Linked DNA regions of Homo sapiens. The protein of the gene in region 2 purifies or fractionates together with the protein of the main gene of each other region. This does not show direct contact. Each region holds a gene or a part of one and is shown on either strand. Other genes may lie near its edges. The genes, in order: EIF1AX, NCR3LG1 and MIGA1.

Region 1 (3,657 bases), on a different chromosome or scaffold from region 2:
AGGAAAAAGAATTCTTATATTCCAACAGTCTACTCCATATATAAGGGAGACTTTCACCTCCTTAGGCTATGTGAGAAACAAATCCAGTTTGAAGAAGAAATTCCTATAATTCTGGCCTGCTATAAGTAAATCGTGATGATCTCCTTTGTAATGTTACATGTTATGCAAAATATTCTTAATAAAATTTACTGTCTCCTTCCTTTAATGCTTGTAATTTGAGATTTTTGTATCTCATGGATGGGAGCAGACACAGGAAGCATGATATGATTGATCCCGTTCAGTGTGATACTGACCTAATTCTCCTGAGTCAATCTGGTTATAGTTAAAACATCTATAAACCACCTGGAGAAATGTCTCAAAGAGTAGGGTTCTCAGGTGACAGAGCCAACTTTTACAAAATGTTCAAGAGAACTCCTTTAATAATCACTCTTTACCATCCCTTTTCCAGCCAGCCAGCTGGGTCCAGTTCTGAGGAGGCGTTGGCCCAGATCCAGAAATTTTTACTGAGAAAATCTTGACCACGCCTAGATTCTCAACCCATTATCTTGGTGCATGCGGCTTCATATCCATGCATGTTCTCTGGTTAGGTTCCTTAATTTTTTTTTTTTTTTAAAGAGGCCTTCTACCCCTGCTCAGATGTCAAAATGTTTGGGTTGGCGCTTAATCCACATGTCAGCTGCAAGCTCTTATTTACCAAAGAATAGAATTGTTAATTCTATTGTCAAAATATTAGTAACAGTTTAGTCGTAAGACTCCTCTTGGCTCAGGGTCTCCAAAATTAAGAAAATAACAGAACAACATGTTTATTTCTCACTTCCTATTTTTGTGTACATGTTAAAATGTCTATAATATTAGTAATTTAACTCACAGTGTGAGTATTCTTGGTCAGGAACAACTGCTCTAGGTATTCCGAAATTCCATCTTTGCATCAAATTTAACGTTATTATGTTATTTATGTAGAGACAAAGTCTGGCTATGTTACCCAGGCTGGTCTTGAACTCCTGGGCTCAGGTGATCCTCCCCTATCAGTCTCCTGAGTAGCTGGGACTATGGGTGCATACCACCACATCTGACTTATTATTGTTTTTGGGTTGAAATACACAGGTGGTTTCTGAACTACATTTTAGTTAAAAGAGGTTTGAAAAGAAGAGCCCAAAACAGATTTAAGAGTAACACCCTAATCACTAAATAAATTTATACTGCCAAAAGATTAAGTTTGAATTTCATTCAATTACAGTAACAGCAGAAGTGCAGTAAAGCATTTACACTTATGGGCATTACTACTTTATTATTAGGAAAGACAATCCATTTTCCTCAAAATAAACATACCAACTGCAAACCAAGAGTTTGCCAACAGTACACACCCAACAGCTAAAAATACCATAATTGGCAATAGGCTTCCATTTTGACAAGGCTTTCAGTGTATGTTGTAATTCCAATGCTTCATATCAAGCTGGTTCAAACAAGATTCTTTCAACACACTAATATTTCAATTAAAAAGGCATGTTCCTTTGATAAGATCTATTTTTCAACTGTCCACTAAATTTCTTAATGGCTATCTCTTTAGAGACTCTTAATTAAACAAGTTATGATTAGAGTGGCTGGCGTTAATATTGCCAATGCAAACACTGACCTTTTCAGGAAGAGAAATTGAAGAGGGTTATAAGAATTCTCAAAATAGGGCCGGGCATGGTGGCTCACGCCTGCAACCCCAGCACTTTGGGAGGCCGAGGAGGGCAGATCACCGGAGGTCAGGAGTTCGAGACCAGCCTGGCCAACGTGGTGAAACCTCGTCTCTACTAAAAATACAAAAAATTAGCCAGGCGTGGTGGCACGCGCCTGTAGTCCCAGCTATTCAGGAGGCTGAGGCAGGAGAATCGCTTGAACCCAGGAGGCAGAGATTGCAGTGAGCTGAGATTGTACCACTGCACTCCAGCCTGGGTGACAGAACAAAACTCCATCACAAAAAAAAAAAAAAAAAAAAAAAAAAAAAGAATTCTCAAAATATAAACAGTTTGACCAGGTGTCTTCTAAATAATATTATTTAATTCAGACAATTCTCAAAATACAACCTTATTTAAGTGTCCCATGTTCTTAAAATTAATGGATGTTAGGGGAAAGTTGGTTTCTCCATGGATAATAACAAAAATTGGAAAACACAAGGTACATCTACTTACGTCATCAATATCTTCATCATCATCTCCAATGTCATCAAACTGAATTTCATCATCATCTCCAGGACCAAATGTATCAGTTTCATTGATTTTAGCTAAGGACACAGTAAGAAATACTCATAAGTCAGCACTGTAATTTACTCAAAGTTTCATCATAAGAGCATTCCTTTTATATAAGACAATAACTATAAAGAATATTTTATGAAAAAAAATTCCTGCAGTGTCACTGCTAAGTCAAGATGGGAGTATCTGTGTTACCATTTTCTTTTGTTTGCAAAGGTATTTTTAGTAAGGAAGGCCCTAATTACACTAATTCTGAAGCTATTATAACTTTCAGGTATACTTCTCAACATACAAGGAAATATGGTAACAACGTATTTCCTTAAGAATAGCTGGTTCACTAATCATCAGATAGACTCATCAATCAGAAAGATCTGGTCAAATCATGATTACCCCTAAGCAATGAAAATGAACCAGGAAGCGCTAGTCCTATTCCTATATACATTAACATTTCTTAGATCAGAAATGCTAAGTAATTTCAGCAGGACTTTCATGCTTAAGTAAAATATAACAAAATTATGTTTTTTCTTAAGATACAACAGAGCCAAAAATAATAACTGCCAAGTGAAAATGCAGGCCTACAGAACAGTATGTCAAGTACATTTCCCCTTTGATGAGGTTATAAGGGACTTATTTTTAGGTTTTCTGCGTTAAGAATTCATTACTTTTGTATTTGGAAGGGTGAAAACCAAGAAATGTTGCTTTTAAAAAATCCTATGGGATACTATTATACAACGATAAAATGGAAATATAACTTTTTAATAAAAATCAGTAATGAGGCCGGGCATGGTGGTTCACGCCTGAAATCCGAGCACTTTGGTAGGCAGAGGTGGGTGGATCATCTGAGGTCAGGAGTTTGAGACTAGCCTGACCAACATGGTGAAACCCCGTCTCTACTAAAACTACAAAATTAGCCGGGCATGGTGGTGCATGCCTGTAATCTCAGCTGCTTTGGAGGCTGAGAATCGCTTGAACCTGGGAGGCAGAGGTTGCAGTGAGCCAAGACTGCACCACTGCACTCCAGCCTGGGCAAAAGAGTGAGACTCCATTTCAAAACAAACAAACAAAATCAGTAACTGTACCTAATTACTTGCCCTTGCTTCATGGTTTTTTTTTTTTTTTTTTTTTAATTTTTTTTGAGACAAGGTCTCACTTTGTCACTCAGGCTCGAGTATAGTGGCATGATCATAGGTCACTGCATCCTTGAACTCTTGGACTCAAGCAATCCTCCCGTCTTGGCCTCCCAAGTAGCTGAGACTACAGGCATGTGCCACCATGCCCGGCTGACTTGCACTTCGTGTTTAACCCATATGCGCACTGACAGTCTCTCGAGGAAGGAATTTTAATAGATACTATAACAAAATTATTCCTTTAGTTAGCATTATGTGGAAGTCCAAAGCTTACAGAACTCCTCACCATATTT
Region 2 (3,657 bases):
TAATTGTTATATGTTCTTAGGCTCCTTTTTGCTGTGACAATTTCTTAGACCTTATTTTTGATGTCCTTGACAGTTTGGTGAGGGTATTGGTCAGGTATATTGCAGGATGTCACTAAGTTAGGATTTGTCTGCTGTTTTCCTCATAATTGGACTTGGGGTTATGGGTTTTTGGAGGAACATCGCAGAGGTAAACTGCCATTTTCATCACATCAAATCACATGACTTATGACTGTTGATGTTGACCTTGACCATCTAGTTGAAGTAGTGTTTGTCTGGTTTCTCTACTGAAAAGTTACTCTTCCTCCTATTTTCATACTGTACTCTTTGAAAGGAAGTCACTCTGTGCAGCCCACACTTAAGGTTGGGGGTTACTTATGTTCTTCCTCCTTGGAGGTGGAGTATCTACATAATTTTTTTAAGAATTCTTCTGCATGGGAGATTTATCTCTTTTCTCCCATTTATGACTTTATTCAATCATTGATATCAATAAGGACTCAAGGATATTTATTTTATACTTTGTGTTATAATGCAATACTACTTTATTTTTTCTCAAATTTTTCCAGCTTTGGCCACGGGGAGCTCATTCACTTGGCTCTTGTGTCACATTGACATACCCCAATCATTGTAAGATTTTGTTTTGTTTTATTATTTTATTTTTTGTTTTATTTAATTTTTGGCAAATTCATATCAAGAATTTTGTTTGATTTTAAGCACTTTTTACATTTTGGCACTATAAGATGCTCCAGACTCATCTTGTATATTTCCTCTCTTGTATATTTCCTGGTTCTAGTCCTAGAACCAACCAATACTCCAAGAAACCTTGGTTCCTTTTATTGGAAAGTGATCTTAGAAACCAAGACCTGGACAGTAAGTGTACTTTTTGCTGCTGAGGTATCATTGATTCTAGACCCTCTCAGCCAACAGAGCAAAGAAATACATGTATGCATACTAACCTCTGCATATACACATATCTACAAATATTTCTATGTGTAACCATCTGTACCTATATTACATTAAACATTTGTTCTTACTGATGTCTCCAACTTTAGTCCATCACCACATAGATCATTCTAGTTTCCTTCTCTTGCTCATCTGTAAACTCCCACTCCAACAGTGAGAAACCTGTACCCACCATCCTCTGTTTATTGAATTAATTATTAACCTGTACTCCGATAAGAAACAACTTTATCTACTAGAGTACAGTGCTTTTTGGCAATTCCTTTTTTTTTTTTTTTTGAGATTTTTTTTTTGAGACAGTCTTGCTCTGTTGCCCAGGCCGGAGTGCAGTGGTGTGACCTTGGCTTACTGCAACCTCCACCTCCCAGGTTTAAGCGATTCTCCTGCCTTAGCCTCCCAGGTAACTAGGATTACAGGTGCCCGCCACCACGCCTGGCTAATTTTTGTATTTTTAGTAGAGATGGGGTCTCACCATGTTGGCCAGGCTGGTCTTGAACTCCTGACCTCAGATGATCTGCCCACCTCAGCTTCCCAAAGTACTGGGATTACAGGCATGAACCACCATACCCAGCCCAGATTTTAGCCATTTTAATAAGTATATAGTGGTATCTCATTTGTTGTTTTAATTAGCAGTTCCCTAATGATATAATGTTGGACATCTTTTCATATTCTTACTTGCCATTCGTATGTCTTCTTTTTTTGTGTGTTCATTGGTTGTCCAGGCTGGAGTGCAGTGGTGTGATTACAGCTCACTTCCCAGGCTCAGGTGATTCTCCCAGGCTTCAGCCTCCCAAGTAGCTAGGACTACAGGTGCACATCACCATGCCTGGCTAATTTTTGTATTTTTTGTAGAGATAGGGTTTTGCTGTGTTGCCCAGGCTGGTCTTGAACTCCTGGGCTCAAATGATCTGCGTGTCTCGGCCTCCCAAAGTACTGGGAATTGTATGTCTTCTTTGATGAGATGTTTGTTCAGATTGTTTGCCTATTTTTTAACTGGGCTCATTTTTTAAATTGTTGTGTTTTAAGAGTCCTTTGTACATTCTGGATACAAGCCTTTATCAGATAGATGTCTCACAGATATTTTCTCACAGTCTGTGGCTTGTCTTTTCATTCTCTTAACAATGTCTTTTGTAGAGCAGAAGTTCTTAATTTTAAAAAGTCGAACTTACTACATTTTTCTTTCATGGATCATGCTCTTAACATTGTGTCCTAAAGCTCATCACCAAACCCAAGGCTACCTAGATTTTCTCCTGTGTTATCATCTAGAAGGTTTATAGTTTTACCATTGACATTTAGGTCTATGATGCAGTTTACTTTAATTTTTGTGAAAAGTGTAAGGTTTGTGTCTATATTCTATATGTATTTTTTTTTTTTTTGCATATGAACACCTAATTGTTCCAGCATCATTTGTTGAAAAGACTGTCCTTTCTCCATTGAATTGCCTTTGCTTCTTTGTCAAAGATCAGTTGAATATATTTGTGTGGGTCCATTTCTGGGCTTTCTATTCAGTTTCTTTTCTTTTTCTTTTTTTCTTTTAATACAGGCTGGAGTACAGTGACACAATCTTGGCTCACTGCAGCCTCTGCCTCCTGGGCCCTGGCAATCCTACCATCTCAGCTTTCCGAGTAGCTTGTGCTACAGGCTCGCGCCACCGCTCCCAGCCAATTTTTGTATTTTTGTAGAGATAGAGTTTCGCCGTGTAGCCCAGGCTGGTCTGGAACTTCTGAGCTCGAGTGATCTCCCCCGTCTCAGCCTCCCAAAGTGTTGGGATTATAGGTGTGAGCCACCACACCCTGCCCTATTCAGTTTCATTGATCTCCCTCTTCTTTCCCCAGTACCACACTATCTTGATTATTGTATTTTAGTAGTAAGTCTGGAAGTCAGGTAGTGTTAGTCCCTCATTTTTGTTGCCTTTCTTCAGTATAGTGTTAGCTATCTGGGTTTTTTCTTTCCATACAAATTTGAGAATCTGTTGATATCTGCAAAATGGCTTTCCGGGATTTTGACTGGGATTGCATTGAATCTAGAGATCAAGTTGGGAAAAATTGACATTTTTTTTTTTTTTTTGAGACAGAGTCTCGCTGTGTTGCCCAGGCTGGAGTGCAGTGGTACAATCTCAGCTCATTGCAACCTCTGCCTCCTGGGTTCAAGCAATTCTCCTACCTCAGCCTCCCGAGTAGCTGGGATTACGGGCATGCGCCACCACGCCTGGCTAATTTTTGTATTTTTAGTAGAGACGGGTCACCAAGTTGGCCAGGCTGGTCTCAAACACCTGACCTCAAATGATCCACCAGCTTCGGCCTCCCAAAGTGCTGGGATTACAGATGTGAGCCACCACACCTGGCCAATGGTATTATATTTTTAATTTCAAATTCCAGTTGCTCAATTGTTCATTCCTGTCAAATAATTGATTTTTGCTTATTAACTTTGTATCCTGCAACTTGCTTTAATCACTTATTCATTCTAGGGATTTTTTTGTTTTTGTTTTTGTTTTTGTTTTTGGCCAAGTCTTGAGATTTTTCTACATAAATCAGGCTGTCTGTTAAAAATACAGTTTTATTTCTTCCATTATTTTATTTTATTTTTTACAGAGGTGAGGTCTCACTATGTTGCCCAGGCTGGTTTTGAACTCCTGAGCTCAAGTGATCCCCCTGCCTTGGCCTCCCAAAGTGCTGGGATTACATTGTGTGAGCCACTGTA
Region 3 (3,353 bases), on a different chromosome or scaffold from region 2:
GTAATGATGCATATACATCAATATATCAATATAAGTTTATATTATGCTTGATGGCATTATCATCCAAACACTTAAATTAAAATACAAGTATTTTCACTTTATTCATCACAAAACTGTCTTTTTCCCCATATCAGTACATGGAGAAACAATAAATTTTTAATCTTTGTTTTCATTTTTTATTTTTTTGAGACAGAGTTTCGCTCTTGTTGCCCAGGCTGGAGTGCAATGGTGCACTCTTGGCTCACTGCGACCTCTGCCTCCCAGGTTCAAGCGATTCTCCTGCCTCAGCCTCCCAAGTAGCTGGGATTACAGGTGCCCACCACCATGCCCAGATAATTTTTGTATTTTTAGTAGAGACGGGGTTTCACCATGTTGGCCAGGCTGGTCTCGAACTCCTGACCTCAGATGATCCACCCGCCTCGGCCTCCTAAAGTGCTGGGATTACAGGCATGAGCCACCGCACCCGGCCTTTTATTTTTTATTTTAATGATAAAGTTTTATATTTGATTATAATGCTTCTGCAGTTGTCCTGTTCTCTATGCCATATATATGGGTCTTATGGAGACTGAATATTCTCATACAGGATCTGATGAGACAAGTGTGACTTCATAATTATATATTAACATTGTTTAAAATATTCAATACATCAGCAAGACGTACCATCACTTTTTTATTTGGCAGTAATAGTAATACATCCATGTTACAGTGCTTATTTTGGCTAAAGAGCCAGTGCAATTTTTTCTGCTACTGTAGTGTTTTACTTTTACACAAATTAATGAGTACAGTCCTTACATTTAGGAGACAGAAACATTTACTGACATCAGCTAAGTAAAGCTAATACATGGTTGTTCACAAACTAAACAAAACAATAACATAATATACTCATTAGGAACAAAGTAGGGATGTTCTTATTTCCACTAATCACAGATTATATAAATTCTTAAATTTCACATACATATTTCTAAATCTAAGCAAAAAAATTAGAATTCAGCTTAATTCCTATAATCATTTTGAAATTTACATCAAATAATTTCTGAATATATATTCACATTAAAATAAAAGTAAATGGGTTATATAAACATAATTTAAAATTTCTGATTATGAAAAGTTATAGAGAAGTACATTAAATGTTACTTTGGCATTCCTATTTCCTAGGCTTACAGGAATTATTAAGAATTCCTTTGTAATGCAAATAATCACTCTCTTGGAAATTAAATTTAAGTAGAAAATGTTACATTTTAAGGCAAGAAAACATTTGTAAATATTTTTATAAAGGCATTTAATTCAACAAATTAACGGAATCATAGTAAATGGATGCAAATAAAGAATATTACTTTATGAGAAAGACAAAGTTCTTTGGAGCTTACTGTGACAGTATGGAAAACTTGTCTTCTTTTTTAAAAGATAATTCCATTTTGATACTTAATAAACATAATGTTAACCTTCAAGAAGAAATAAGCACTCTTAGTTGAACAAAAATGTAGGGAAATTAAAATACAAAAAATGAAATTAAAAGAAATACCAAATGTAAATTGCCTCAAAATTTATCTTCTTTCTTCTAGAAAAAAGGATATTTTCTCAGGAGTGACTTAATTGAAGTCCCTCTTATAATTTACATATGGAAGTGGATGGTAGAGCTCATGGTGGCAAGGGCAATTCCATGATTAAGTGTTTAAACAGGGTTTACCCTAAAAGGCTCTAAACTAATCATTTTTAAAGACATTGCTTTTGCTATTTAACCCAATTTTAAGGCAAATGGAAACCGTTACATATGTCTTTTTTTTTTTTTTTTTTTTTTTTTTTGAGACAGAGTTTTACTCTTGTTGCCCAGGCTGGAGTGCAATGGCACGATCTCGGCTAACTGCAACCTCCGCCTCCCGGGTTCAAGCGATTCTCCTGCCTCAGCCTCTCGAGTAGCTGGGATTACAGGCATGCGCCACCATGCCTGGCTAATTTTTGTATTTTTAGTAGAGATGGGGTTTCACCATGTTGGTCAGGCTGGTCTCAAACTCCTGACCTCAGGTTATCTGCCCACTTGGGCCTCCCAAAGTGCTGGGATTACAGGCGTGAGCCACTGCTCCTGGCCTGTTATATATGTCTTAAGTACCCTTCTGCATGCAGTCAGAAATGTTCTTTTCAAGAGGACATTTCCTTTAAAAAGTTCAAGTTTCTTATCTTACGATAAAGAGATATTTCCTATACTTATTGTCCTAAAATTCTATTTGGTCACTCTTACCTCTTTTGTGAAAGGCCACATCTTGCTAAAGTAGCAGCTACTGAACTGACCAGAAACAAACTCAAACACTGAATTTGACAAACCAACCTGCTGAATATAAGCAACTTTTTCTAAGATGAAATGTAAAAAAGAAAAAGAAAAAACAAAAAGCAACACCTTCTAGAAAGCCATTCATCTTATCTCATAAAATTAATTCCCCAGAGTTATCTCATGTAGTAGCAGCATTATCAAATAGTGCAATTCTTCAAAATTGATTTCAAATAATATCTTTCTAAAATAAATTACATTTACTTACAGCTTTGCTTATAAAACCACAGCTTAAAACACTTAGCCCTCAAATGGGTAAATTACTATAAGCAATAACTGTCTTGTCTACATGGTAATGAAATGCACGTGCACGCACACATGTGTGTGTGAAGGCCAAAGATACCGCAACAAGGTAAAAACATGTAATATTAAATAAAAAGTAAACAGTACATAATGGAATTTTTAGTTTTGGTACTTCTAATCATATTCCCGTCAATAATAAGAACTATAAATAGGTAATTGTTAAATTAAGCATCTATGTAAGAAAAGGCAAGGAGCTATATACTAAAGAACAGTGATAATTTGTATGTTTCATGCTATATAACCTATAAAGTACATGCAAAACAGCATGATCCTGAATTCCATATTTTATAGTTAATTTACATAAATGTGGCACATACAGAAAATTACAAATCTTAAAAGATTATGCTTTTCCCGCCCACTTTTTTCATCTTCTATTTATTAATCAGAAACTAGGCACTTTAATCTAAAAATTCGCTTTTTAAAAATGCATTTTAGGAGTAAGACATGGTGACACATGCCTCTGGTATGAGGAGTTGGAGACTGCAGTGAGCTATGTATGATAGCACACTGCACTCCAGCCTGGGCAATAGAGCGAGACCCCATCTCTTAAAAGAAGGCAAAAAACAATGCATTTTAGGTCCTTTTGTGCAACTCACTCCTAAAATGACTAAAGCCCGTTTTAGGGGCAAAATCAACAAATCTCATCTACTTACATACTGAGTTAGTCACTCCAAATAAGTGGTATATTATTTAGAAACAAAATTAATACAACTCTGAAAGCATTTAA

Evidence for each region.
Region 1: the proteins of NCR3LG1 (region 2) and EIF1AX purify together in Homo sapiens (affinity purification with mass spectrometry; 2 studies listed by BioGRID and IntAct, with this or other methods). This does not show direct contact.
Region 3: the proteins of NCR3LG1 (region 2) and MIGA1 purify together in Homo sapiens (affinity purification with mass spectrometry; 2 studies listed by BioGRID and IntAct, with this or other methods). This does not show direct contact.

Annotation. Positions count from the first base shown.
Region 1 is NC_000023.11:20,128,339-20,131,995, forward strand, and holds part of EIF1AX (eukaryotic translation initiation factor 1A, X-chromosomal), read right to left. Parts: intron 2,270-3,657; coding exon 2,178-2,269; intron 1-2,177. UniProt on the Homo sapiens protein: Component of the 43S pre-initiation complex (43S PIC), which binds to the mRNA cap-proximal region, scans mRNA 5'-untranslated region, and locates the initiation codon. This protein enhances formation of the cap-proximal complex.
Region 2 is NC_000011.10:17,358,282-17,361,938, forward strand, and holds part of NCR3LG1 (natural cytotoxicity triggering receptor 3 ligand 1 precursor), read left to right. Parts: intron 1-3,657. UniProt on the Homo sapiens protein: Triggers NCR3-dependent natural killer cell activation.
Region 3 is NC_000001.11:77,876,845-77,880,197, reverse strand, and holds the end of MIGA1 (mitoguardin 1), read right to left. Parts: 3' UTR 658-3,353; downstream 1-657. UniProt on the Homo sapiens protein: Regulator of mitochondrial fusion: acts by forming homo- and heterodimers at the mitochondrial outer membrane and facilitating the formation of PLD6/MitoPLD dimers. May act by regulating phospholipid metabolism via PLD6/MitoPLD.